4 linked regions of the Homo sapiens genome follow. The protein of the gene in region 1 purifies or fractionates together with the protein of each later gene. This does not show direct contact. Each region holds a gene or a part of one and is shown in the gene's direction. Other genes may lie near its edges. The genes, in order: WSB2, CCDC9, AMBRA1 and ACIN1.

Region 1 (7,608 bases):
AAACATCTTTGTAAGATCCATTCATTGAAAAACATAATCCATTTATTGAAAAATATCTTTGTAAGATCACCTGCTAAATATGAAAATCTGACTTGAATTTGTACTCTTTAAAGTTGCGTATCTGCTCTAGTGGGCAGGACCTAGGGCTTAAAGGGGAACTTCCTTTCTCCATTTCTAAGAACTGGGACTCTAAAATGAGAAGCTGGTTGTCTGAAGTAACCCTGCAGGTGTGGTTGGGGAAGGTCTGTTTTCTTGGATGAAGGAACTAAACTAAGCATATCAGAGCACTGTCTTAACCAGTTTTATTTCCCTGGAGATAGAATTCTTTTAAAAAGAGTTAGGGAGCTGGTAATAGGAAGTGCCTTTCATTATAACTACATTTTGCAGAGCTTCATATTTATATACAAGCCTCCTAGGTGATACACTGTTAGCTTGCAGACTTTCCTATGCTTCATTTCTCCTGTTGCTTTCAAAGAAGGCAGGAGACACGTTTAATAACGGAGTATCTGGTGATAAGAATTGCTTGGGCAAACCAGCTCATCTGGACTCTTTCTCAGTCTTGGAAGTGGGAAGAGGAAAACTTGTTTCCTTCCTGCTTCTTAAGGATATTCTGAGGGTACACTGATCAATAACACTAAATTTGGAATGAAAATACCATGTGATGAGTTTAGCCTGCTGATGCTTCCAGTAGATCCTTGTATAGTTTCAAGATTTAAGTTTTCCGATTTCATATAAATTTCTTAAAGTCGAGGACCTTATAAGGGTGCAATGGATGTTTGCTAAATATGAAAAACTGACTTGAATTTGCACTCTTTAATGTTGCGTATCTGCTCTAGTGGGCAGGACCTAGGGCTTAAAGGGGAACTTCCTTTCTCCAATTCTAGGAACTGGGACTCTAAAATGAGAAGCTGGTTGTCTGAAGTAACCCTGCAGGTGTGGTTGGGGAAGGTCTGTTTTCTTGGATGAAGGGATTAAACTGAGCAAATCACTAGAAGTATGCCCTGTCCCCTGCTCAGAACACTGGGGAGCTCAAGAGTGGGCTGCAATGTGCACCCCTCAGGAATAGCTGTGAATTGCAGGTCTACTGGCTTTTTGCTTTTTGTCTTTTGCTGCAAGGTACCCCACGTACTTAACCATTCTCAACAGTGTAAATCAGTGTCATTTTAGAATGAGATACTCAGCTTGCTTCTAAAGTCACTGAATTACTGAGTGAGTCTCTCCTTTAGAGTCTTCGGCAACCAAATTCCAGAATTGAAGAGTCTACTACTCAGAGGCAACAAGATTAAAAAAAGAAAACACAAAAACTGTTGAGGTGAAAAAAAAAAAAAACCCTAGCTAGGAACACAGAGAATGTTTTGTAGGATCACTGGGATATTTTCCACAACTTCCTCTTCTCTAGCACACACATCTGTTGATAGGAAATATTTGAGGGTTTTTCCACTACCAAATGGGAGCTTCATGGTCCTGGTGTCAAACACTATAAACCTTTGACCAGCTGAGCTGTGACTGCTGTCACATATCTGAGTCCTGTGTGCACAGTAATATCCTGGGTCAGGTAAAATCCAGGTCTTCAAGTTTTAAGGATTTTTTGAAGAATTCGGGCTTCTTTAAGACGATCCATGCCCAAATCCACAAGCTTGTTGACAGTGGATTACAGTTTGTGTGGCAAAGTCCAAGTTGTTACACTGTGCTTTAAAAAAAATCTTATCTGCATGTATTGTTAACTTAGAGACCATGAGATCTATTTATCAGGACCAGGAAGATACACACTTCAGGTCCATTGCAACTGACTTTTTTCTTGTTTTTCTCAAACCCTGGTGGAGCCTGGGAAGGGGGCCTCCACAATTCTGTGGCTTTGATATTAGCCCCAATTCTCACAAGCACATACAAGCCCCATAATTGCCGCAGGAAAACACAAGATGGAAAATTGCAATAACCCATGCACTGAGACTTAGAAAATCATCCTTACTAGGCAAAATGTATTATGATGCAATAAGTGCCAACTGATATTTCTCACGTTGGGACTGGCCAGGAACTGCTGCAAAGAAAAATAAGCAGCTCCTTCTCCATTATTTACATTTTAAGATGTGGTGGGGGGAGGTTGGGAGAAATTAGTTCTGAGGTTATCATATGCCTTTTTTAAAAGATAATGGAATAAAGCTATTTTTAAGTAAGTGCTTTTGTGATCTTGATTGAGACCTGGTTAGTAAATTGAAAGACTTGGAAAAACGAACTTGCCAAAAAAAATTTTTTTTACTAGCTTTTTAAAAATTGGTAACAATATTCTTCTCACCTCAGCCCCGCCTTTTTTGTTTTTTTTTTTTTTTTTTCCTCCAGACGGAGCCTCCATCACCCAGGCTGGTGTGCAATGGCAAGATCTCAGCTCACTGCAACCTCCACCTCCTGGGTTCAAGTGATTCTCCTGCCTCAGTCTCCCGAGTAGCCGGGTTTACAGGTGCCCGCCACCACACCCAGCTAATTTTTGTATTTTTAGTAGAGATTGGGTTTGGCCATATCGGCCAGGCTGGTCTCGAACTCCTGACCTCAGGTGATCTGCCCGCCTTGGCCTCCCAAAGTGCTGGGATTACAGGCATGAGCCATCGCGCCCCGCGACCTTACCCTTTTATTCTTTTCCATGACGTGTACATAAAAACGAGGCCTGTAAGACTCCAGGAATCGAAGGAATTTGGGAGACAAAAAATGGAGACTCAGAAAATTAGAGAAGAGAAAAATGGGAGGGGGGAGCCTGGACAATAAAACGGGGGTCCTCAGGAGGCAGGAAATTAGCGATTAAATGGGAGCAGAGGTGGAGGAGGCCGACACTGGTGCCAGAGATAAAAGTGGAGTCCCAAAAAAAGGGGTGCGCTGGGCCGTTTTTAAAATTGGGAAACATAAAAAATACCCAGTGGAAAATGAAGAGAGAGAACGGGGCATGCTAAAGTTAACATGGGCGGCGAGAAAGGGACAGGTAGCCAGCGGAAAAGGGGGAGACTGAGAAACCGGCAGGTTCAAAGAAAAGAAAAAAAAAAACCGGCCAAGCGGGGTGAACAGGAGTGTAACCCAGGAGGCCAAACGGGACACAGGAAGGACGTACCCAGGGCTCATAAAACAGGGGCCTGGGTAAAAAAACCCGAAACATTAAAACGGAGAGACCATGGTGAAAAAGAACACGGGAACCTCAGTTACCGTAGAAAACATAGGTTGCGTTAGGAAGCAAAGAAATTTAAAATGGAACCACTGCGATCCGGAGCTCTGGGACCAGTGACCGGCAAATGGAGAGGGCACTTGGAGGGAAGCGAAGAAAGGCGGGGAGAAAGGAATGAGAGGCGGGAGAGTGACTTGAATGAAGCTGACACCAAGAACCGCGGGAAGAGCTTGGGCCCAAAGCAGGAAAGGGAAGCGCTCGAGTTGGGGGTAAGGGGAGGCATTTTGGGGACAATGAGCTGAGCTCAGTAAGAAATCCCCAAGCCACTGATACTACTGGGGACCGGACAACTAAGAAATGGGGTCTTTCAGGCATGAAAAGCCTCCATGATGACTCCTGCCCTGGCCCTGGAATGTTAAAAAGGGGGCGTCTGACCCAAGCGAGCCATTTCTTGAGGCTATGCGGGTAGACAGGGAGAGCAGGTTTCTCAGGGGGACGGGGACAGGCGAGGCTGTCGCCGTAGGTAGGTAAGGGGACAGTCTTCTTCCGAATCGCTCCTGCCCCGTTTTTTATCTCGTTCCCACCCCCACTCCGGTTTTCACCCTGCCCTCCTCTCCCCACCGCCCCGTGTTCTCCTCACTTCCCTCTCCCATTACCGGAGCCATTGAGTAGCCCCCCTTGTTTTACCCTAGCCTTGACCCTCGCCGCACCCCCCAATTCTTACGTCCTCCCCAGCACCCGGTTATTACACCTTCCTTCCACCCCCTCCCCATTTTCCCCTAAGCCCAGCTCTCCCCAGGTTTCTTCTCGGCCAGTATTCCCTCCAACCTATTTCTCCCGCCCCCATTTTTACCCGTTTCCCCCCTCATCGGCCTTCGCATGGCTCCATTTTCACCTGCCCCTCCCCTCGATTTCGCTTCAGCCCCTTTGGTTCCCCTTACCCCCACAGCCCTCGGTCTCCCTCTCTCCGTTCTCCCCGGATCGCCGCTTCCCCTGCTTGGTTTTTCTCTCAGCCCGGCTCTACCACTCTCCAACACCCCCTTTTCCCCTGAGCCCGGCTTCCCCTACTCCGGTTTCTATCGCTCCCCTTTTCCCGGTTTCCCTCAGCTCTGTTCACCTCCCTCCCTTCCCCGTTTTTATCCGGCGCTGGTTCCCCTCAGGACCCCGCACAACCCCTGGGTTTTATCCCGTTCGCGCCCCACCCCGTTTCCGCTCAGCTCCCCCCACCCCTGCCCCATTTTTATCTGGTTCGCGCGTCTTCCCCGCCCCCGTTTCCCCTGAGCAACCCCTCAGCTTTTATCCCGTCAGCGTACCGCCTCCCCGATTTTCCATCTTTTCCCTCAGCTGCCCCCCACCGTTTTTATCCCGTCCGCACCCCCCCTCCGTTTCCCCTGCGCCCCGCCCCCGCGCGTCTCCGCCCGCGCCCACCGCCATGTGACGGGAAGCAGCTGATGGCCTCTCCGGGCGGCGGCGGCGGCCTGGCCGGGGCGGGCGGCGCGGGGGCGGCATGAGGGCCCGCGGCCCGGGGGGCTGAGGCGCCCGCCGCCTGCCGCGGGGGCCGCTCGCGTCCTCCATGGAGGCCGGAGGTGAGTGGGGCCGGGCGCGCCCGTTCCCGCCCGGCGGGGCCCTGGCCCGTTCTCCCCGGGGAGGGGGGAGGCGACCCCGGGGCGGGCTGGGCGGGGTGGGGCGGGGGCTGGACGCGGCGGGGGCGTCCGGCCTGGGAGGTCCGCGCGGGGCCGGCGGGGGTGCGCGCCCGGCGACCAGCTTTGTTTCACTTTCGTTGTCAGTGGCCGCCACCCTGACTCCCGCCGGCGACAGGATCGGGAAGATCGGGCTTCTGCGGGAGGAGATCCCCCGACCGGGACAGAGGGGGCTCCCGGGTGGGACTCGGGGCGGGGGGCACCAAGCCCTAAAACGGAGATCCCCAAGGGGGTGGGTGCCCCTGGGTACCCAGGTGCCAGGGGACGCACTTGCATGTCTGGATGGGAGTCACCTCTGTCCCTCACAAGCTGTGTGATCGTGACAGTGGACAAGCCACTGAACCACCGCCACCCACGTCTCAGTTTTGATCTGCAAAATGGGATAATCCTAGTACCTTCCTCGGAGGGTGGCTGGGACCCGGTAAAAATGGGGTCTGGGGTCTGGGTTCCCTATTGAAACAATCTATTCCCAGCCTCTCCCACTGGAGATTAAGTCAGTGGAGGTGGGGCGGGACTGGAGACGCTGATCCCTGGTGACATGTATGATCAGGCAAATTTAGGATACACTGATGGGTGGGGACCTTGCCTCTATTCTTGTTAACTGCCATCCCCATCAGAAGACAGCGTGGAAGTCAGAGGATATTGGATATACCTCAAGCCAGCCCAGATGAACATAAAATCTCAGTGGGAAAGGTGTGTCTCTTATGCAAGGGGAAAAAAACCCCAAGACGCATGCACGCCTTGGCCCTCTCCCCTCCAACGACCTTCCCTCGGAACCCCACTTGGGATAGATTTAGAATTGATTCCGGGAGTCCCAGGTCTTGAAGGACCCGAGTTTAAATGTAATTTCCTTAGGAGAAATTTTCAGAGCAGGTTCAAGGCCTAGGGCTCAGAATTTGTTCCAGAACTTCATGGTAATCTTGCAGCCAAGTTCAAGCTTCATCCTGGTCTGGAGGGTTCTGATTGCTGATGGCTTGTTACTGTGGGTGGGAAGGTTGAAATCTGGGTATTCCCTGGGGTGGTGTTACTTTTTAATTTAGGAAATGACATTTCTTTGTTTGCTGAAGTCAGGCATTGAGTTAAAGGCAGCTCTCTCTCCTTCCCATCTAGATAAGGGCTTTCTTTTCAGTGAGTGTTACCCGTAGAATTCTTTTTAAAAGGGCCCCTACTGTTTGTGTAGATCCTATGTGAATCTTTTTATAGCTTCCGTTTGATTTCCATTGCCTCCTTACAGTTCAATCTGAAAGCAATCTGTAGCTAGCCTGCCTTTTTAACAGAAATCTGTTTCCAGTTCTGGGGTTTTCCTAAAGATTGACAACTTCGTTTTGAGGGTGTGGGCAGGGTTGTTGAGAGCTGCCAAGTTACTGTACAAAAAAGGCCAGAGTTTTAACTTATTTTCAAATGGAATAAAGCCCATTGTAAAGGAAATACAATGGGCAACAGTTGAAATCTTCAGAGCAATGGTTAGACTTCACTTATTCATTCAGCAAATATTTGTTGAACGTCTACTATGTGCCAGGCACCCTCTAGGCCAGCCCCGACCAACAGAAGTCTAATGTGAGCCACGTATGTAATTTAAAATGTTCAAGTAGCCACATTAAAAAAAAGAAAAAAGAACTAGGTGACAATTTAAAAACTCTTTCAATACAACATGTCTAAAATATTCCTGCTACATGTAATCAAATAAATTGTAATGTAATGTTTTAGATTTTTTTTTGTGCTAAGTGTTCAAAACGTGTTGTGTATTTTTTACTTACAGCCCATCTGAATTCTGACTTGCCACATTTCAAGTGGTTGGTAACCACATGTGATTTCCCTATTAGACAGTGTAGCCCAATAGCAGTGAACTGGCAAGTTTGGGTGGGTTCAGAAAGAGACAGACAATAAATACGTAAAAATGACAGGCAATCAAGAAAATATCAACCAAATGCGCCGGGGTGGCTCACGTCTGTAATCTCAGCACTTTGGGAGGCTGAGGCGGGCAGATCACTTGAGGCCAGGAGTTCGAGACCAGCCTCACCAACATAATGAAACTCCGTCTCTACTAAAAATACAAAATTAACCAGGCGTGGTGGTGCATACCTGTAATCCCAGCTACTCAGGAGGCTGAGGCAGGAGAACCGCTTGAACTGGAGAGGTGGAGGTTGCAGTGAACCAAGATCTCGCCATTGCACTCCAGCCTGGGCAACAAGAGTGAAACTCCATCTCAAAAAAAAAAAAAGAAGAAGAAAATATCTAAGTGATGGTTATAAAGAAAATCAAATGGTTAAAGGAAAGTGAATGGTGCCAGGCGCAGTGGCCCAGCAGTTTGGGAGGCCAACTTGGGTAGATCACTTGAGCTCAGGAGTTTGAGACCAGTCTAGGCAGCATGGCAAAACCCCATCTCTGCAAAAAATACCGAACTATAGGCGCGTGCATGGTAGAATGTGCCTGTAGTCCCAGCTACTGGGGAGGCTGAGATGGGAGGATCATCTGAGCCTGGGGAGGTCGAGGTTGCAGTGAGCCGTGATGGTGCTACTGCATTCCAGCCTGGGCAACAGAGCAAGACCCTGTCTCAAAAAAAATAAAAAATAAAAAAGGAAAGTGTATGGTCGCTTTAGATAGTGAGGCCAGGATGGTCTCTGAGAAGGTGACATGAGGACCAATCCCTGAATGATAAGATGGAGCAACTGAGGAAAGCTTTTGAGGCCGGTGGAATATCTAATGTACATGTCCTGATACAGGAAAAATCACCTAGCTTCCTGCTGGCTGGGGTCATAGCTT
Region 2 (7,021 bases), on another chromosome or scaffold:
TGGGCAGTTCAGGGCAGGGGGAGGAAGAGGGAGGATTTAGGACAAGGCTGCTGAGTAGGTGATGTGGCTCTCCCTGAGATGGGATCTGGGAGGTGGCATGGGTTTCATTTATTCATTCTTCATGTATTCATTCATTTTAAAAAAGGCATATTGAATTTCCCTTGTGGGCCAGGCAGCGTTCTAGACTTGGGATACACGTCAGTGACATACATCACTGAAAGCAGACAGACATTCCTGTCCCCAGGCAGATTCTGCCGTAGTGGAGGAAGCAGACAGTGAGCGAGACGCATATGGTGCTGGGTGCAAATGGGATGAGAACAGAGAGGGTGGCAGGGGAGCTGGTTTCCACAGGGTGCTCAGGGAAGGCCTCACGAGAAGGCAGCATTGGAGCAGAGACCTACAGGAGGTGAGGGGTTGGAGGGTCTCTGGGAAAAGTGTTCCTGGCAGAGGGATCCGCTGGCGCAAAGCCCCTGAGGCAGGTTTCAGCCTGGTATGTTGTGGGAATAGCAAGGAAGCCGGAGTGATCGTGGGGAGAGGGTGAGAGATGAGGTCGGGGAGGTACCAAGGCCAGACCCCACGGGTCCCACAGGCTGTGGGGAAGGCTGTTACTCAGAGGGGCACCACAGGAACGTTCTGAGTGGGGCTGCAACGTGCTGAGGTTTGAGGGATATGAGCGGCCTTCTTGTTCAGAGTCCAGGAGAGAGGCCTGGGCTGGGGCCAGACTTAGGAGGAGTTCAGGGGTCTGGGAGTCCGTCTGGCAGACAGGGCACCTGATGCTTCCCTACCCCGGCTGTCTGCTCCTAGGAGATTGAGGAAGACCGTAAGAAAGCTGAACTTGAGGGAGTCGCAGTCACAGCTCCCCGAAAGGGCCGCTCAGTGGAGAAGGAGAACGTGGCAGTGGAGTCGGTGAGCTCGTCACTGGGGTGTGGGACCCTGAGGATGGGGAGGGGCAGAGGGTTGAGGCCTGGGACCCAGGAGCCCCCAGCTGTCCTGCACCAGTGGGTGGCCTCCATCCTGGCCGCATGCCTCCCTGCCCCAGTGACTGTATTTTCCCCATCTCCCCTCTTCCAGGAGAAGAACCTGGGTCCTTCCCGGAGGTCTCCTGGGACCCCTCGGCCCCCAGGGGCCAGCAAGGGGGGCCGGACTCCTCCACAGCAGGGAGGCCGGGCCGGCATGGGCCGAGCATCGCGCAGCTGGGAGGGCAGCCCCGGGGAGCAGCCTCGAGGAGGAGGAGCTGGGGGCCGTGGCCGGAGGGGCCGGGGCCGAGGTTCACCTCACCTCTCTGGAGCTGGAGACACCTCAATCTCTGACCGTAAATCCAAGGTAGGAGCTAGGCAGCGCCTGGAGCCCTGGCTGAGGTTCTCTGTTGTCTGTTTCTGTTTTTTCCTCCTCTCAGATGCACATTTGTCCTGTGTGTCCATCTTTCAGTATCTCTCTCTGAGCCTTTGCATCTGGCTCTGTTTCTCTCTTCCTCCACCTCCTTCTCCTCCTCCTGCTCCCCCTCTTCTAGTTCCCCCTGTTCCTTCCCTCTCACGCCTAGAGCTCGTGTGTTTTTCCTTGTCTCTTTCTCTCCTACTCCTGCTCCCCGTCTTCTTGTTCCTCCTCGCCTTCCTTCCCTCCCCTCTCCTGCTTAGTGCTGCGTGTCCCTCCCTGTCCCTCTCTGTCTCCCTTTTTCTCGCTCTCTGGTGCATGCTTGCCCACTCATCCTCCGTCCCCATCTCTCCTCCCTTTCTGGCACTGTGTGTCTGTCTGGTGGGCTCTCTCTATCTGGTGTGCTTGTGAGCACAGGCTCTGTGTGGCATTCTGTTTCTGTGTGTTTCTCTTGGTCCCCGGCTTTGGTTATGGGGAGCAGTGATTTTACTGTAACTACCTCACTCACCCCTGACGTGCAGGTCAGCAGGGTGGGAGTCTGTCTAGCTGAGTGGCTTACAGCCCACCGTGGACATGGGTTGAATCTGGTTCTGTGAGCTACCTGGCCTTGGGCAGCTCACTTCCCCTGTGAGCTTCTGGTTCTAGCACTTACACGGGAATAAGAAAATTCAAAAATTAGCTGGACGTGGTGGTGGGCACCTGTAATCCCAGCTACTTGGGAGGCTGAGGCAGGAGGATCACTTAAACCTGGGAGGTGGAGGTCACAGTGAGCCGAGATCATGCCACTGCACTCCAGCCTGGGCGACAGAATGAGACTCTGTATCAAAAAAAAAAAAAAAAAAAAAAAATGCTGGGCGTGGTGGCTCACGAGGCCTGTAATCCCAGCACTTTGGGAGGCTGAGGTGGGCGGATCACCTGAAGTCAGGAGTTCGAGACCAGCCTGGCCAACATGGCGAAACCCCATCTCTACTAAAAGTACAAAAATTAGCCGGGTGTGGTGGCACACGCCTGTAATCCCAGCTACTCGGGAGGCTGAGGCAGAAGAATTGCTTGAACCTGGGAGGTGGAGGTTGCAGTGAGCCGAGATTGCGCCATTGTACTCCAGCCTGGACAACAAGAGTGAAACTCCGTCTCAAAAAAAAAAAAATAATTAGACTTAAATTGGGCATGCCAAGCTGCTGTCACACAAAGACTCCAAAAATTTCATGACCTAAGTGGAGTAGGAGTTTATTTCTCCCTTGTATGCTGAGCCCTGCAGGGAGGTGGGTGGTCCAGGGGGTGAGGCCCTGCTCCATGATGTCACTCAGGGACCCAGGTTCCTGCTTTTTTTTTTTTTTTTTTTTTCTTGAGACAGAGTCTCACTTTGTTGCCCAGGCTAGAGTGCAGTGGCATGATCTTGGCTCACTGCAACCTCCGCCTCCTGGGTTCAAGCAATTCTTGTGCTTCAGCCTCCCAAGTAGCTGGGATTACAGGTGTGCACCACCACACCCGGCTAGTTTTTGTGTTTTCAGTAGAGATGGGGTTTCGCCATGTTGGCCAGGCTGGCCTTGAACTCCTGACCTCAGGTGATCCTACCGCCTCGGCCTCCCAAAATGCTGCGATGACATGTGTGAGCTGCTGCGCCCGGCCTGGTTCCTGTTTTTGTTGCTTGGTGGCCCCTAGGTCCTGGTCATTGTCTGTGGTAACAGCTGGGTTGCCGACATGGTTGCGGTTCAGTTCACAGGAAGGGGAAAGATAAGTCTGCTTTATCACTTTTGGTCATGTCCTGTTGGTGAGAACTTAGACACCTGGTCATACCTAACCTCAAAGGAGACTGGGAAATGAAAACGTTGTCTACAGCTGGCTGGCTATTTGCCCATCTAAAATTTTGTCACTAGCTTGGTTACTAGTAACAAGTAGTTACTAGCTACTTGGAATGCTGGGTGCTGTGGTATGGGCTTGTGGTCCTAGCTACTTGGGAAGCTAAGGTGGGAGGATCGCTTGAGCCCAGGAGTTTGAGACCAGGCTGGGCAACAGAGTGAGACCCCATCTCTATAAAAATTTTAAAAATTAACTGGACGTGGTGGTGTGCCCCTGTGGTCCCAGCTACTTACTTGGGAGGCTGAGCCAGCAGGATCACTTGGGAGGCTGAGCCTGGGAGGTCAAGGATGCAGTGAGCTGTGAACACACACCACTACATTCCAGCCTGGGCAACAGAGTAAGACCCTGTCTCAAAAAAAAAAAAAATCAATAAATTTTTGCTACCATGGAAGGAAGAAGGGGAGAACGGATTGTGGTTGGTGGGGGTAGGTCACCTAACCATCTGCCAAGTAATTACTGTTATTACCACCACTATGATTGCGGCAACCTTGGTGTGCCAGGGCCCCCAGCACCCTGACACTGAACTCGCAGGTTCAGTGGTTTGCTAGAAAGACTCATGGCTTAGATTTATCACAGTGAAAGAGATCACAAAGCAAAATCAGCAGGGGGCGGGGTACCTGGGCTGAGGTCTGGAGGAAACCCGGCATGAACTTCCAAGAGTCCTTTCCCTGTGGAGTCCCAGGGGATGCGCTGAATTCCTCCAGCACTGAATTGTGACAACATGTGGCTTACCAGGGATGCCCACGAGAGATTCAGCACTCCAGGTTTTTAATTGGGGGCTGGTTTATTTTTATTTATTGTATTTATTTAGTTTTTAAAATTTCTTTTTGTTTTTGAGATGGAGTTTCACTCTTGTTGCCCAGGCTGGAGTGCAGTGGTATGATTTCGGCTCACTGCAACCTCCGCCTTTTGGTTTCAAGCAATTCTCCTGTCTCAGCCTCCCAAGTAGCTGGGATTACAGGTGCCCACCACCATGCCCGGCTAACTTTTGTATTTTTAGTAGAGACGGGGTTTCACCATGTTGGCCAGGCTGGTCTCGAACTCCTGACCTCGTGATCCACCTGCCTCGGCCTTCCAAAGTGCTGGGAATACAGGCGTGAGCCACTGTGCCCGACCCGTTATTTTTATTTTTATTTTATTTTATTTTTTGAGACAGAGTCCTACTCTGTTGCCCAGGCTGGAGTGCAGTGGCACAATCTCGGCTCACTGCAACGTCCACCTCCTGGGTTCAAGTGATTCTCTTGCCTCAGCCTCCCGAGCAGCTGGGATTACAGGCGCCCACCACCATGCTTGGCTAATTTTTTTCGTATTTTTAGTGAGATGGGGTTTCCCCATGTTAGCCAGCCTGGTCTCAAACTCCTGACCTCAGGTGATCCACCCACTTCGGCCTCCCAAAGTGCTGGGATTACAGGCGTGAGCCACCGCGCCCGGCCACTTTTAAAATTTTTTGTAGAGACAGGGTCTTGCTATGTTGCCTAGTCTGGCCTTGAACTCCTGGGCTGAAGCAATCCTCCTGCCTTGGCCTCCCAAAGTGCTTGGATTAGAGGTGTGAGCCACCATGTCAGCCTGGAGGCTAGTTTTGAACGCAGGCCCCTTCTGTCTAGTATGTACTGAAATTCCAGACCCCCCAGTAGGAAGGCGAATGCAGCGTACAGCGTGTTGTTCGCATAGTCCAAGCCTGGCCAGCCAGCCTCATCAGTTCACTGCTGACCTGGAGCACGCTGAGAGCAAATGGTCAGATGCCAGCAGGCCAGTCCGAGGAGAGGAGCCTCAGGCCTGCTGGGCAGCCCGTCTCCTGCACCGGCAGCTTAATAGTTCTCCCTGAAGCTGGGTGTCCCTATCTTTATCCCCCCAGGAGTGGGAGGAGCGGCGCAGGCAGAACATTGAGAAGATGAATGAGGAGATGGAGAAGATCGCCGAGTATGAGCGCAACCAGCGGGTCAGTGGTGCGGGTGTCCCCGAGGCAGGGCCGAGCTGCCTGGGCTGCGGGGAGCCCGCGCCAACCCCCTGCTCTGCTGCCTGCAGGAAGGGGTTCTTGAACCCAACCCAGTGCGGAACTTCCTGGACGACCCCCGGCGACGCAGCGGGCCCCTGGAGGAGTCTGAGCGGGACCGCCGGGAGGAGAGCCGCCGGCACGGCCGCAACTGGGGGGGCCCCGACTTCGAGCGGGTGCGCTGTGGCCTTGAGCACGAGCGGCAGGTGGGTGTTGGCAGTGAGGACACCTCGGGGCTCTCAGGGCTTTGATGGGGACTGCATAGCAGGAACCAGACAGATCAGGGCCATGGGGCCTCTCCTTTTTTGTGCCACAGCACAGGACTTTTTTTTTTTGAGACGGATTCTCGCTCTGTCACCCATTCTGGAGTGCAGTGGCACCATCTCGGCTCACTGCAGCCTTTGCCTCCTGGGCTCAAGCAATTCTGCCTCAGCCTCCCGAGTAGCTGGGATTACAGGCAAGTGCCACCACACCTGGCTAATTTTTTCGTATTTTGTAGAGACGGGGTTTCACCATGTTGGCCAGGCTAGTCTTGAACTCCTGACCTCAAGTGATCCACCTGCCTCGGCCTCCCAAAATGCTGGGATTATAGGTGTGAGCCACTGTGCTTGCCCAGGATTTTAATTATTAAGGATTTATGGTATGTTTTGTTTCCTGCCAAGGTAAATCTCCCCTCATTGTTAATGACACCAGCATTTATGAGGCACCTACCACATGGCAGGTGCTGTGTGAGGGGTGGGGACCTGGCCTAGAAGAGGAGGCAGGGGCAGTGTCCTTGCACTTGGTGGTCCACCCCTAAATTGTCCGTCTGTTGGTTCTTCTGTCAGTACCACGTGGCTCTAGTTGTTACAGCTTTGTGGTATGTTTGAGGGTTTTCTTGTTACTAACAGTATTGTTTACTGGGCACTTACTATGTGCCAGGTACTGTTTTAGGTGCTGAGGATAAGAGGTTTTTTTTTTTTTTTGAGATGGAGTCTTGCTCCATCGCCCAGGCTGGAGTGCAGTGGCGTGATCTTGGCTCACTGCAAGCTCCGACTCCCGGGTTCACACCATTCTCCTGCCTCAGCCTCCCCAGTAGCTGGGACTAAGGTGCCCACCACCATGCCCAGCTAATTTTTTGTACTTTTAGTAGAGATGGGGTTTCACCATGTTAGCCAGGATGGTCTCTATCTCCTGACCTCGTGATCTGCCCGCCTCAGCCTCCCAAAGTGCTGAGATTACAGGCGTGAGCCACCGCTCCTGGCTTTTTTTTTTTTTTTTTTTTTTTTTTTTTGAGACAGAGTCTTGCCCTGTTGCCTAGGCTGGAGTGCAGTGGCGCGATCTCGGCTCACTGCAAGCTCTGCCTCCTGGGTTCATGCCAGTCTCCTGCCTCAGCCTCCCGAAAAGCTGGGACTACAGGCACCCGCTACCACGCCCAGCTAATTTTTTGTATTTTTAGTAGAGACAGGGTTTCACCATATTAGCCAGGATGGTCTCCATCTCCTGACCTCATGATCCGCCTACCTTGGCCTCCCAAAGTGCTGGGATTACAGGCGTGAGCCACCGCGCCCGGCGGGAGAAGAGTTTGGAGGCAGAGCCCCTGCCTTGATGAGGTTTCTTCTGGTGGGAGCTGAGTAAATGAAAATATAGTGAGATGTGAGGTCCTACCAAGTGTTGTGGAGAAAAATCCAGCAGCTGAGGGGACAGAGGGATGCTACTTAGGAGATCTGAGAGGGCCTCTGTGAGGAGGTGCCACCTGAGCCTAGTTGATTGTGATCTCTGCCTTGTCATCGCTTCCCTGTGTGATCCTGAGCAAGT
Region 3 (7,021 bases), on another chromosome or scaffold:
GAAAGGTACTCCTAAATAATCTTTTTTTTTTTGAGATGGAGTCTTGCTCTGTCGCCCAGGCACTGGAGTGCAATGGCACTATCTCAGCTCTCTGCAACTTCTGCGTCCTGGGTTCAAGCAATTCTCCTGCTTCAGTCTGATGAGTAGCTGGGATTACAGGTGCCTGCCACCACACCCGGCTAATTTTTGTATTTTAGTAGAGACGGGGTTTCACCATGTTGGCCAGGCTGTCTCAAACTCCTGACCTCAAGCAATCCAATCTCCTTGGCTTCCCAAAGTTCGGGGATTACAGGCGTGAGCCACTGTGCTTGGCCTGATCCTTTCTTTAGCTACAAGGTTGAGCTATGGAGAATATGAGAGTATGAAATATTTTTGGAAGAAAAATTCTGGGAGGAAGGGTCTTTTCTGAGAAAGTGTCATTAAATAGGAAAAGTATAATTTCCCTTTTGAGCTAGAATTGTATTTGCAATTAGAAGCTTCTCGTTGCAGAAGTCGTTCTTTGACATTATTCTTTGTTCCTTAAGATTTCCATGAGGACAACTTACAAGGACCTGTATGGCCTCATTTTAGCTGCTTCAGTGTGTTGGAGCTGTTACTTGCTCCTTCATTTCCTGGGCCTGGTGTGACAGTGGCTACTGAGCGCCATGAAGGTTGTCCCAGAAAAGAATGCTGTCCGGATACTCTGGGGGCGAGAACGGGGTGCTCGGGCCATGGGAGCTCAGCGGCTTCTGCAGGAGCTGGTAGAAGATAAAACCCGGTGGATGAAATGGGAGGGCAAGGTAAGGAAAATGGCTATATTTCACATAGGATTTGTGCTGGTGATGGTAGAATGAGACCTTAGAATGGGTTAACAGCAGAGAGTTGGGATATATTTATCTTGTGTGGGAGAGTTGACATATCTGACTTAGGGAGTTGTTTGTAAATTTGAAAGAACTAATGTGCTAGAAATATCTTTTTCCTTTAGAGCTAGACAGTTTTCCTGAAGGTAATTTAGGTTTATCTCTCTCAATTTGTAGCTTGATCATTGTCTCCAGTTTTTAAGCCTACACTGTGAATGCTAATCTAGAATGGTTAATGTGCTTTTGAGATACGGTGAACCATGGTCTACAAATCATGTATTTTAACTTTTTTTTTTTTTTTGTCTCCCAGAGAGTAGAACTGCCGGATAGTCCACGCTCTACCTTCTTATTGGCCTTCAGCCCAGACAGGTACTCAGTATTTATCTATAACTTAAGATTTGTGATAACAGTGCTTTCTGTATATTTGGCCTGGCTTGATCTTCCAAGTCAGTCCCTAAAGTCTCTCTGAAGTACTGTATGAACAGCACTTTGGCCCCGTGTCGGAAAGGGAAAGAAAGTAGATGAGCAGTGCTAACCTGAAAAATCATGAGAACAAGCAAAGGAAACTGAGAGGATCAAAACTTGGAAAGTTTCTCAATAACAATCATTTGCCTGTGTGATACAGCTCACCAGTGGTATGATGGTTTTTCCAGTGGGAAAAAATATTTTCCGAATGTGGCATGTGTCATTTGGGGACAGTGTGGACAAGCCAAAAGCTTTTAAAGATCAGAATATTTCTGTTTGTAGATATACTGCCTAACATACAAAGCTTAGTTTCTTTCATGTTGGGATTGGCAGGTAGCATCAATATTCTATGTCGTCCAAAGTTGATAAGATTGGTTACCCTTCCACATGCTTCTGAATTCAGTTCTACTCTTTGATTTTCTAGGACTCTCTTAGCCTCCACCCATGTGAACCATAATATCTATATTACGGAGGTGAAGACTGGCAAGTGTGTTCATTCCCTGATTGGACACCGCCGTACTCCATGGTGTGTCACTTTTCATCCCACCATCTCAGGCCTTATTGCTTCTGGCTGCCTAGATGGGGAGGTTAGGATTTGGGATTTACACGTGAGTATTTCCTTAAGATACCCTTTTCTTTTGGTGTTCTAATTTTTTTTTTTTGAGACGGAGTCTCGCTCTGTTGCCCAGTGGTGTGATCTTGGCTCGCTGCAACCTCCGTCTCCCAGGTTCAAGTGATACTTCTGCTTCAGCCTCCCAAGTAGCTGGGATTACAGGCATGTGCCATCATGCCTGGCTCATTTTTGTGTTTTTAGTAGAGACGGGGATTCACTATGTTGGCCAGGCTGATCTTGAACTCCTGACCTCAAGTGGTCTGCCTGCCTCGGCCTCCCAAAGTGCTGGGATTACAGGCATGAGCCACCATGCCCGGCTTCTTTTGGTATTCTAAATGCAGAGACTTGTTTACCATTGGTTTTTTAATTCTGGAAGAGCCTAGCCAGATTCTTAGGACTACATCTGAATATATTGTTGTAGACATTGCCCACTTAATTAATAGGAAGTCTAATTCCCTGTCTTCCATTCCTTTTTTTTTTTTTTGCAATAGCTTAAGCATGCCCTGAGATTGTCTTCCATTCTTGCTAAGATGAACATCTACTTTTGCTTCCTTCAGCCCGTTGTGACATAGTACAGGAGGCTCTAAGATATGTTCAGGTTGGATTTCTGTTGTCTTAGGGCATCTTTGCCTAAGTACAGATATTCCTGTACTCCGATCATGATCATCAAAGCAAGATCCTCTTTGTCCTAGTAACTGGCTAGCGGGTTGTCTTGCACCATGTTGTGCACCGAGCTTGAGTTTTTCTCAGGCTTTGCATGGAACTGTGGGCTGGGCGCGGTGGCTCACGCCTGTATTCCTAGCACTTCAGGAGACCAAGACAGGAGGATTGCTTGAGTTCAGGAGTTTGAGACCAGCCTGGGCAGGATATTATACCAAAAATATTATACACAAAATTATATAAAATTAGCTGAGCATGGTGCCATGCGCCTGTGGTCCCAGCTACTTGGGAGGCTGAGGTGCGAGGATTGCTTGAGCCTAGGAGGCAGAGGTTGCAGTGTGCTGAGATTGTGCCACTGCACTCCAGCCTGGGTGACAGAATGAAACCCCCTGTCAAAAAAAAAAAAAAAAAAAAGAAATAGGAACTGTGTATATATGCTTAATGCTTGTAGATTGTGACTAATTTGAAGAACTGAACTGATTGTATAGTATTTATCTGATAAATTAGTGGCACTACCAGATCGCTGATCTTCTACATCTTTTTACAGAGGATGTATTTAAAGTAGTCCCTAGACATAGTCATTTTACCTTAAATGGACCTTTCTTGAAATTGACTTCCCAGTGTGCTGGTAGCTTGTAACCTGAGAATATCTGGAATTGGTTCATTCACAGGGTGGCAGTGAAAGCTGGTTCACAGATAGCAACAATGCCATTGCCTCCCTGGCTTTCCACCCTACGGCTCAGCTCCTGCTGATTGCCACTGCCAATGAGATCCACTTCTGGGACTGGAGTCGACGGGAACCCTTTGCTGTGGTGAAGACAGCTAGTGAGATGGAACGGGTCCGGTGAGTGCGCTGCCCCATCTGCATTGTCTGGCACAGGACTGACGTGATAGAGAACATTCTACTGGCTGTCACCTTGGAAGTCAGGTTGTTATCCCTGCTCAGGGCAAGTTGTCATCCTCATAGCTCCTCCTATTTTTTTTTTGAGACAGGGTGTCACTCTGTCACCCAGGGTGGAGTGCAGTGGCGCAGTCTTGTCTCACTGCGACCTCTGCCTCCTAGGTTCAAGCGATTCTCGTGCCTCAGCCTCCAGAGTAGCTGGGATTGCAGGCACCCACCACCATGCCCGGCTCATTTTTTTGTATTTTTAATAAAGATAGGGTTTCACCATGTTGTCCAGGATGGTCTTGAACTCCTGGCCTTAAGTGATCCGCCCACCTCAGCCTCCCAAAGTGCTGTGATTACAGGCATGAGCCACCATGCCCACCACCACCCCCCCCCCCCCGGCTTTTTTTTTTTTTTTAAGGAGACAGGGTCTTGCTCTGTTACCCAGGCTGGAGTACAGTTGTGCAGTCATGACCTCATGGGCCCAAGTTACTGCAGCCTTGACCTCATGGGCCCAAGCAATCCTCCCACCTCAGTCTTATGAGTATCTGGGACTACAGGTGTGTGCAGCCTCTCTCAGCTAATTTTTAAATTTTTTCGTAGAGATTTGGGGGGCGGGGCCTCACTGTGTTACCCAGGCTAGTCTCGAACTACTGGCCTTCAGTGATCCTCCTGCTTTAGCCTCCCAAAGTATTGGGATTATAGGTATGAGCCACTGCACCTGGCCGCCTCCTGCTTTCTAAGCAGCTGACTAATCAGCTGGGAGACATTCATTTTGTTCATTTCAGCTTTCCCTTATTGGCCTCATCTTCTGGTTTTTGGAGATCAGGGTCATTAGACTCTCTTTTAGTTTCAAAGCTAACTGTTTTGGATAGTACTTCTTTGGGAAAACCTGAAAGAAGTTTGGGTGGTATTTTAGATACCTTGGTGGGTTGTCTGTGTTTATCAAACTGGAAGATGGAGATGTAAGCACATAATTGACATTTATTTAGTCCTCAAGATCAAAACATATTGTCTGTATTAAAGTTGATGCATTGTGTTTCTTTGGTCCTCTTGGATTTCCAGTCGAATACAGGCCAATTTTCTGGTTTCAGCTATGTCACTTAATGCTGGGACTGTTCATTGCCACCAAGATTCATGCTTCTTGCCGGTGTAGCTGCCATATGAGGGAAGAACTGATTCTGTGGCAGAGTATGAGAGCATTTTATGCTTTACGGTTAGGATGAACTCTTGTATTTGAGCAAAGGTGTGCTTAAGGTAGCTGTTTCCTGGGATGGCAACTCTAGGTGTTTTTCATGTGAAATCGTTATTTTTGTGATACATATTCCTTTACTCTGGCAAGAAGTATTGAGTGTTACTATTTTAATCTCTTTGAAAGTTTTGGAAGTCTTGAATGAAGTGGATACCTGAGTGATACCAGTTATCAGTAATGATTGCTATAAATTCAAACACAAGTTTCCTCTTCTCAGTTAACATAATCTCTCTATGTGTGTCTTTGTCTCTTTCTTCTGTGATTTTAGTCTGGTGAGATTTGATCCACTTGGACACTACTTACTCACAGCAATTGTTAACCCCTCTAATCAACAGGTAAGTTAGTCCAGCAGTTCCAATTCCAGCTAAACTGTGAGTTCTTTTCTTAACTAGTATTCCAATTCTGATTATATTGGATTTTAATTCTCAATACCCAAGTCTTATCTTTCCAGTCAAGATTTAAAGCTAGCTTCAGACTGTATATTCAGGGTTATAGCCATAATCTTGACAGGAGAGTCGATTCTGAAACCCTCCAGTGATTGCCTCATTAGAAGTAACCCTTATCATCACTAGACAGTGTTGGATAGCTTGTCACTCATGTGCCTCTGGCTGGTTGACATTTTGCTTCCCCTCACTGCTTCCATGTCATGGGGAGATGTCTTTTGTAAGACAATTGGTTTGTCAGCTGCACTCATTCAGATATGCTGCTAATTGGGAGTGGAAAATTTAATACCATGTGATTATTTTGAATCTGAGGCCAGTTGTCAGTGCTTCAGGGGTAGAGAGTTGTTTCCTACCTATGAACATTGTTTTCCTTGGATGATTGTCAGTGGTTAGTTTTTCTTGATTTACTTGGAGGTTCTACCTAACTGCCTTGCTCTACCCCCTGCCCCATGCTGGTCCACGTTGCAGGGTGATGACGAACCAGAGATCCCCATAGATGGAACAGAATTATCCCACTACCGTCAGCGTGCCCTCCTGCAATCACAGCCAGTTCGCCGGACGCCTCTCCTCCACAATTTCCTGCACATGCTGTCCTCCCGCTCTTCTGGCATCCAGGTGGGAGAGCAAAGCACAGTGCAAGATTCTGCTACCCCCTCACCCCCACCGCCTCCCCCTCAGCCCTCCACGGAGCGCCCCAGGACTTCCGCTTACATCAGGCTCCGACAGCGGGTCAGTTACCCCACAGCTGAGTGCTGCCAGCACCTTGGGATCCTGTGCCTTTGCAGCCGCTGCTCTGGCACTCGAGTTCCTTCCCTCTTGCCACACCAGGACAGTGTCCCCCCTGCTTCTGCCAGAGCTACTACCCCTTCCTTTTCTTTTGTACAGACCGAGCCCTTCCATCCCCCGGAGCAGGCCTCGTCAACGCAGCAGGACCAGGGCCTCCTGAACCGGCCGTCTGCCTTCAGTACAGTCCAGAGCAGCACTGCCGGCAACACGCTCCGCAACCTCAGTCTGGGTCCTACCCGCCGCTCTTTGGGAGGGCCTCTGTCTAGCCACCCTTCTAGGTATCACCGAGAAATAGCTCCTGGGTTGACAGGATCTGAGTGGACCCGGACAGTACTCAGTCTGAACTCCCGCTCTGAGGCGGAATCCATGCCCCCGCCCAGAACCAGTGCCTCTTCGGTGAGTTTGCTGTCTGTGCTGAGACAGCAGGAAGGTGGCTCTCAGGCATCTGTGTACACTTCAGCCACAGAAGGGAGGGGTTTTCCGGCATCAGGGTTGGCAACTGAGTCAGATGGAGGGAATGGCTCCAGCCAAAACAACTCGGGCAGCATTCGCCATGAGCTTCAGTGTGACCTGAGACGCTTCTTTCTGGAGTATGACCGGCTTCAGGAGCTGGATCAGAGCCTGAGTGGGGAAGCTCCCCAGACCCAACAGGCCCAGGAAATGCTCAACAATAACATTGAATCTGAGAGGCCAGGCCCTTCCCACCAGCCCACCCCACACAGCAGTGAGAACAACTCCAACCTGTCCCGTGGCCACCTGAATCGCTGTCGTGCTTGCCACAATCTCCTGACCTTCAACAACGATACCCTGCGCTGGGAAAGAACCACACCTAACTACTCCTCTGGCGAGGCTAGTTCCTCTTGGCAGGTCCCCAGCTCCTTTGAGAGTGTGCCATCAAGTGGCAGCCAGTTGCCACCTCTCGAGCGGACTGAGGGCCAAACGCCCAGCTCCAGCAGGCTGGAGTTGAGCAGCTCTGCTAGTCCGCAGGAGGAGAGGACTGTGGGGGTGGCCTTTAACCAGGAGACAGGCCACTGGGAAAGAATTTACACCCAGTCCAGCAGATCTGGAACTGTGTCA
Region 4 (7,021 bases), on another chromosome or scaffold:
AAAATCATGTTATCAGAAAGCAAAGAAGGGTGAGAGCTTCACATTTCCATGTATGCCTTTTCCCCGCCGCCCTAGCTCCCTTCGTCTTCCTTCTCTTCCTCATGGCTTTCATTCCGTCTTTCGTTTTGGTTTGTTTTCAGTCATTCTGCCTTCCCCCTTTGTCCTGCCTGCCCAGTTTCTAATTGGCCCCACATGCCCTTTCTGTATGGGAAATAGATATTTTTTTTGTATAAGCCTTTTCTCTAGATGTAAGCAGCTAAATCTCGTGTTTCTCTGGGGGCCTGTTTAGCTGGGGGCACAGTTCCGATTTTCCCCTCCCCCTAACCCCCCTAGTGCATCCCTTCTTGACTGCTCTAGGGAGGTTCTTCTGACCTCTGAGTGTCAGTCAGTCAGCCTGTTGGGAATGCTGACTTTTCTGGTGGTGGTTATCGGCCTGGGAGGCTTGGTTTCCCCTCTCCTGAGCCTTAGGCCTCTGATCATCTTGATTTGATTTTTTTTGCTTGGTGTTTGGGTGGTAGAGGGGGTGAGATTTGAGATAGAAGTTGGGGACGAAGACAGAAATCAAAGGTGGAAAGATAGTTTATCTGAAGTGAATCTCTGGGATTCTTTGCCTGAAATGGGAGCTAACTTGTGAGATTAAGAGTGGGAGAGTGGGTTTGGTGTTCTTGGGGGAAGCTGCCTGTGTGGGGGAGGGTGTGTCCTGACTAGGAGGCCTGCTCTCTTTATCTCTTGGAAGTTGGAATGAGGGAGTGGGAGAAACTGGGTGAAAGCCGAATGTAGGAACAGTTTCTACACCTCTGAGCAGGTAAAAGTGGCCCTAATCTCTGAGCTCTCATACTCAATTCAGCAGTTTTAATTTTTCCTTTTGAATGAGAGAGGGTCCTTGAAGCTTGAACCTTCACCAGGCCTGCTTCTTCCCTGCAGCTCCCACCCCCCGCCCCGCACCCCCCACCCCCCACCATTTTCTCCATGCTGGTGTCTCCAGATCCTGAGGATCAGCAGGCCTTTACTTATTAAGCAGTTGATTAAACACAGGTCAGGCTTTTTTGCCAAAGCCTTGGCCATTCTTTCTTGTCTTTTTAAGGGAATCGGGCTTCCCTTCGTTTCTCGTGCAATTTTGCCATATAAAGGTGCCTTTGGCCAGGGAGACTGAGGCCACAGGGTTGTGGGCAAATCACAGTCACTTTTGTGGGACTATTTTCAGAGGAGGGTTTTTCTCCTTTCATATAGGAGTACTCTGGTGAGTTATTACCTGAGAATAGTTGGAGTCCTAACCCCACAAATGACAACTTTTAACTCATCTGGGCAATAGGTGGATGTGGTTGCTGTGATCCACGCTCTTTCCCCAAGGAAAATCTATTTCCCACTTTTCCCATTGGGACAAGGTCTCTAACCTTGATCAGAAAAGCAGCCCTCCTAATCCCACCCAAGTGATGAGGCAGGAGGGTTTCCTGACCCAGTAACTAACATCTTGCTCTCTCTTCCCCTTGGTTCTTTTCTGCCCGCCCCCCCACCACCACTCCCCCCTCCTGTCAGTGAGGAGAAGGAGGAAGTGACCATGGACACAAGTGAAAACAGACCTGAAAATGATGTTCCAGAACCTCCCATGCCTATTGCAGACCAAGTCAGCAATGATGACCGCCCGGAGGGCAGTGTTGAAGATGAGGAGAAGAAAGAGGTAAACATCCAAGCCACCTATTGGGGCGGGTGGGCAGGAATGGACCTAGGGGAAAGAGTAGAGCACTCTAGTGATCCCTCTTACACGGTGGGTTAACTTAAAGGAGGGATGAGGCAGGGACTTGGATCAGAATAGGGCCAAGGGAGAATTCGCTGGTTTAGCAAGGGAGACCCCTTGTGACGGGGACAGGGCTCATTCATTTTCCTTTCCTTGTTGGGGAAGTAGTGCCCAGACTCTAGACGTTTGTAACTAACGGGAAAGTCTGATAATGGCCCTTTATCTAAGATTTATGTTCAGCTTTTCCTGCTGTCTTCCCAAGCTTCTCCTGGTGGTAACTCCTTTAGCTTTCCCTCCTTTTTAAAAGCCTGATGGAGCCCAACGCCATCTAGTGGACATTGGTGGTTCTCACCAGACCAGCCATGCTGAGAAATTTTTGTTCCTCCTCTGCCCTCCAGTGGTCTGACTGCAGAGATGTAGCTACTTAGAAGCCAGCACTTGTGATCCGGAAGGCCCATTCTCAGTTACCTGTGACCCCTCTACCTCCTTTTTTGGCATATGTTATCTTGTGTCCTGCACCCACTTCAGGGGGCTTCCCCCATCAGAGCCAGCGAAGTCTTCTTGGCTCTTAAAGTAATTGAGAAAGAATGAGCTGGGTTTAGGAGAGGGGTAACAAGGTGGGAGGGACTGTTGTGTGTGTAGCCTTTTTCTGGTGTGTGTTGCGGGGGTGGGGGCCGGTGAAAGTGATTTGATGTGCAGAATATTATTTATTACAAGGTCCTTCTTCCCCGTAAAACTTTGTCCAAGTACCTCATGTACGGTAATCCGCCCGTAAAATATAACCCTGCCCAACTGGCCAATCGCTGATGCCGCCTCTTCCTCTGGACCCACCCGCTGCTACTGAGCTGCCCAATCAGAGCCAAGTCTGCTATCCAGGTGTCTTGGCCAGAGGGGGGCATGTATATGGGCTCCTGTGATGGGCCCCCTTTTGCCTCCCTGTCTTGCTTACATCAGGGGGCCAAGAAGAACACTGTTCTGGAGAGACTTGTATTGAGCAAGCAAAAAACATTTGGAAAGGGGTGGACTTGCATCATCTCCCTACTTGGGACACCCCAAGAAGAGCTTGTGCCAGTGCTGGGGCGCCTGCCCACATGCCCTTGCCCTTTTGAGGACTGTGGGTTGCCTTGTTTGCTACAGACTGTTGGGATCCCCATCTAGGGCACCAAGACCTCCTAAAGTTTGTGATCGCAGTGCCATGCTGTAAAACACTGAGTGGGACCCTCTACTTAAGCTGTGACGACTAGGAACCGTGCAGAGGAGTCTAGGGTCTGAGCCCCTGGGGATTTAATGCTGATGACAGCCCAGCCCATGTGTCACCACTTGCTCATCAGATGGACTTTCCTTTGGTCCCTGTTGTCCATGGTGAAGGGCAGCATGTTGGTTGCTCCAACTTCTCCTCCATCCCTGGAGGCAGGGACTCATTTCATCCACCTGACTGGAACCACTGTCTCAGCTGGAGTCCCTGAGGAGATGCCAGCCACAACTCTCCGAAGAGAAGTATTCTGACCTTGCTGCTGAATGTCTGCCAGGTCCTGGGGTATTCACCTACCCCCAGGCTACCTTCATCAGAGGCTCCATGATCCCACTCGGTGAGAGGACCCCCTCCCCAGTTACAGGCAGAGGAGAAAGGGACTCTGGAGTCATCACCTGGATTCCAAGTATTGGGTGGTGTTATTGCTGCAGCTTGCCACTGGTGGACATAGGGTCCTGCCTGCCTCTCACGATAAAAGGCAAGGATCATTCCTGCTACTCACAGGCCATCTCATCAGGGACTGCAAGATGATGTCCCTTCAGGGCCAGGACTGATGTCTCTGCCCCTTTCCCCCCTCTATCCCTCGCTGAGCCTGGCCACCGCCAGTGAACTGTCTTGACATCATGGAAACTGGGCAGCGTCCCCCCACACGTTTCCCTCCCGCCCCCCCTGCGCCCCTGGGAGGACTCTGGCAGTGCCGTGCTGACTACCACGCCGTGCGCCCACCTTTTTTGCCAACCCAACCCCCCACCAATTGCACAGCGCCTAGCAGGGAGGGCTCATTCTGATTGGACCGGCGGTTGACTAGATACAGTACACAGTGAGGTGCGATTGGCTGAACTGAAGATCCCAGGTGTGAGATGGTACCTGGAACATTTGTCATATTCCTAGTTTATTTTCTTCTTTATTTTCTTCTTCTTTTTTTAATATTTTATTTTATTTTTTTCTATATCTTTATTTTTTCTGATTTCTTTTATTTATTTATTTGGTTCATGTTTTTCCTGTTTTAATTAAGACCTTTTTTTTTGTTTTGTTTTTCTCACTAACTTACCCATCGAGAGCGGCCCAGCTAGGGGTCAGGCTGGCCCTTAACAGAGACCAAGGAGACTTGGTTAGACGACACAAACGGGGCTGCGGGTGGGGGTGGATGGGAAAGGGATTTCATCACGAGGTTTCTGCCCTACCCTTTAGAAGAGTGGTAGAGTGGTCTTAGTTTTTCCAGAAATAAGCACCTACACTTGAAAATACTCTATTCCCTTTTTCTCTCTCACTTTTCTCCCCCGCCCCCCATAGTCTTTCGTCATTCACCCACTGAGTGTTTGGGGTAGAGACTTGTCCCAAAGATGTCTTCTGGTCTTTGGCAGAGCCCCTAAGGCTTGAGCCCTGGTTGGAGAGGAAACAGTAAGACTCTGCTGGAGCTCCCTGCGGTGGCTGGAAAGTCTAAGGATCTCCTTGGGGACAATCTGCCCTTCATAAAAACCTTCCTTTATCAAAGACACCTTTGAGTTCTTTTTGCTAGCACTTGGCTCAAGAGCCTCATCTCCAGTGGGTCTGGTGCTGCCCTTTTCCACAGTGTGGTGGGGGTCTGGGCAGTCTTGACATGACAGTCTGCTGTCCAAGCATCTCAAAGCCATTGTCAGTGGGCATCAGTCTGGCCATTGAAGAAAGGAGGGTTACCTTGTTGAAGTTGCCATCCAAAGTTGGTTTTCCTTGTTTCCTCGAGTTAGCAAGGAAGGACCTGGGAGGACTAGATGACCCAGTTTGGGGCACAGTTTGTTTGGCTTGGTGTCCTCTCGACTCAGACGGTGAAAGAGGGGGTATGACCAACATCTTTAGGGGGCTGAGAGGCTACTGAACTCCTCTTCCAGCTTATTTCTGGTTAAGCTAATACACAGGTGTGATACGGAGTAGATGACTTTTCCCTGCTCTGATGTTTAGTTTTATTTTTTTCTCTAACTTGCATTGATTCTGCTTCGTTTTTGCCGTTTGCCGCTTCTGTTTTGGTCTCTGTCTGTCTCTGTGTCTCTCTCTGTCTCTCTCTCTCACTCTATCTGTGTCTTTGGAGGCTAAGCTAAGACTGCCCCATCTAACCTCCTTCCCCCCTCTCTGTGGGGTGTCTCTCTTTCTCTTTTTTTTCCCCTTTTTCTTCTTCATACAGAGCTCGCTGCCCAAATCATTCAAGAGGAAGATCTCCGTTGTCTGTAAGTCCAGCCCCAAATCCCTGATAAAAGTCAGGAATACCATAAAAACCAGCATTCATTGAGAACCAGAATTTCATTCTCAATGGCATTCTTGGGTCACTCCCTCCTGCCCCACCCCTTGTGCCTAGCAAATCTGAATCCTTTCCTATGTAGGGTTTCATTTTGGAATTCAAAACTTGAGACAATCCCCATCATATTGCTCCAGTCACATTTTAATGAGATACAGTGTGAGGTGTCTGAGACCATGTCCCATTTAGCCTTAGAGGCATTTATTCTTTCAGATACCTGAATACTCAACAAGGAATGAGTTTCAGGGACTCCTATGTGATGCTTAGCAGTTTATGAATTATTCTGGGTATTTTGTTGTTGTTTTTTTGAGACGGAGTCTCCCTCTGTAGTACCCTAGGCTGGAGTGCAGTGGTGCGATTTTGGCTCACTGCAACCTCCGCCTCCGGGTCCCAGTTCAAGCAATCCTCCTCCGCCTCCTGAGTAGCTGGGATTAGAGGCATGCGCCACCATGCCCAGCTAATTTTTGTATTTTTAGTAGAGATGGGGTTTCCCCATGTTGGACAGGCTGGTCTTGAACTCCTGACCTTGTGATCCGCCTGCCTTGGCCTCCCAAAGTGTTGGGATTACAGGCGTGAGCCATCGTGCCTGACCTTGTTTATGCGTTATTCTAAGAGAGCACCCAAGGAAATGAAAGTGCCCCACACCTCAAACAGTAACAATTTTAACATTTTCCCCAATGAGGAACTCTAGATTACAAAAGTATAATAGATGTTTATAACTTAAATATCAATCTGTAGTGTGAAAATTAAAGGAAGACCAGATCCCATCATGATCTTAGTTCTGCCTAGATGTTAGTATCACATAGTGTTCTTGTTTCTTCTGCATTTACATGTCCTTCTCAGTTTTTCTTCCACACTACTTGATATTACTGTCTACCATTAAAAGTTTAAACGGCTCATCAAACTAGCTACCCCTCCCTTACTGCTTTTAGATCAGTGTTCAGTCTGAAGCCATGGTTTCCCCAGTTCCCAAATATGATTTCTTTTCTTTTTTTTTTTTTGAGACGGAGTCTTGCTCTGTCACCAGGCTGGAGTGCAGTCAGTGGCACCATCTTGGCTCACTGCAGCCTCCGCCTCCCGGGTTCAAGCAATTCTGCTTCAGCACCCTGAGTAGCTGGGATTACAGGCATGCACCACAACGCCTGGCTAATTTTTGTATTTTTAGTAGAGATGGGGTTTCACCATGTTGGTCAGGCTAGTCTCAAACTCCTGACCTCGTGATCCACCCGCCTTGGCCTCCCAAAGTGCTGGGATTACAGGTGTGAGCCACCACACTCAGCCTCCAAATATGATTTCTTTAAGTTAACCTTTTACCAAAACTCCAGCCAGAGGTAACCTGTAGGTATTACGGTTTGAACTAGCAGAGGTCCTGAGACCATCTAACTGTTGGGTCTATTTCTTGGGGACAGCAGCTACCAAGGGGGTGCCAGCTGGAAACAGTGACACAGAGGGGGGCCAGCCTGGTCGGAAACGACGCTGGGGAGCCAGCACAGCCACCACACAGAAGAAACCTTCCATCAGTATCACCACTGAATCACTAAAGGTGAGGTGGGAGGAGCCAGGGAAGGGAGGATGAGACCTGTTAAGGTGGGAGTAGACATGGGCCCAGTGTAACGGGGTGGGGGGTATCTGTGTCCCAGAGCCTCATCCCCGACATCAAACCCCTGGCGGGGCAGGAGGCTGTTGTGGATCTTCATGCTGATGACTCTCGCATCTCTGAGGATGAGACAGAGCGTAATGGCGATGATGGGACCCATGACAAGGG

What was found.
Region 2: the proteins of WSB2 (region 1) and CCDC9 purify together in Homo sapiens (affinity purification with mass spectrometry; 2 studies listed by BioGRID and IntAct, with this or other methods). This does not show direct contact.
Region 3: the proteins of WSB2 (region 1) and AMBRA1 purify together in Homo sapiens (co-immunoprecipitation; 3 studies listed by BioGRID and IntAct, with this or other methods). This does not show direct contact.
Region 4: the proteins of WSB2 (region 1) and ACIN1 purify together in Homo sapiens (affinity purification with mass spectrometry; 2 studies listed by BioGRID and IntAct, with this or other methods). This does not show direct contact.

The regions. Positions count from the first base shown.
Region 1 is NC_000012.12:118,058,159-118,065,766, reverse strand, and holds the start of WSB2 (WD repeat and SOCS box-containing protein 2), read left to right. Parts: upstream 1-4,587; 5' UTR 4,588-4,718; coding exon 4,719-4,731; intron 4,732-7,608. UniProt on the Homo sapiens protein: May be a substrate-recognition component of a SCF-like ECS (Elongin-Cullin-SOCS-box protein) E3 ubiquitin ligase complex which mediates the ubiquitination and subsequent proteasomal degradation of target proteins.
Region 2 is NC_000019.10:47,259,517-47,266,537, forward strand, and holds part of CCDC9 (coiled-coil domain-containing protein 9), read left to right. Parts: intron 1-804; coding exon 805-906; intron 907-1,071; coding exon 1,072-1,323; intron 1,324-5,086; coding exon 5,087-5,170; intron 5,171-5,256; coding exon 5,257-5,430; intron 5,431-7,021. UniProt on the Homo sapiens protein: Probable component of the exon junction complex (EJC), a multiprotein complex that associates immediately upstream of the exon-exon junction on mRNAs and serves as a positional landmark for the intron exon structure of genes and directs post-transcriptional processes in the cytoplasm such as mRNA export, nonsense-mediated mRNA decay (NMD) or translation.
Region 3 is NC_000011.10:46,542,004-46,549,024, reverse strand, and holds part of AMBRA1 (activating molecule in BECN1-regulated autophagy protein 1), read left to right. Parts: intron 1-524; 5' UTR 525-644; coding exon 645-779; intron 780-1,149; coding exon 1,150-1,208; intron 1,209-1,728; coding exon 1,729-1,912; intron 1,913-3,248; coding exon 3,249-3,421; intron 3,422-4,983; coding exon 4,984-5,050; intron 5,051-5,626; coding exon 5,627-7,021. UniProt on the Homo sapiens protein: Substrate-recognition component of a DCX (DDB1-CUL4-X-box) E3 ubiquitin-protein ligase complex involved in cell cycle control and autophagy.
Region 4 is NC_000014.9:23,064,133-23,071,153, reverse strand, and holds part of ACIN1 (apoptotic chromatin condensation inducer in the nucleus), read left to right. Parts: exon of another isoform or gene 1-6; coding exon of another isoform or gene 7-29; intron 30-1,536; coding exon 1,537-1,678; coding exon of another isoform or gene 1,679-1,774; exon of another isoform or gene 1,775-2,452; coding exon of another isoform or gene 2,453-2,542; exon of another isoform or gene 2,543-2,689; coding exon of another isoform or gene 2,690-2,893; exon of another isoform or gene 2,894-3,794; intron 3,795-5,145; coding exon 5,146-5,188; intron 5,189-6,665; coding exon 6,666-6,799; intron 6,800-6,896; coding exon 6,897-7,021.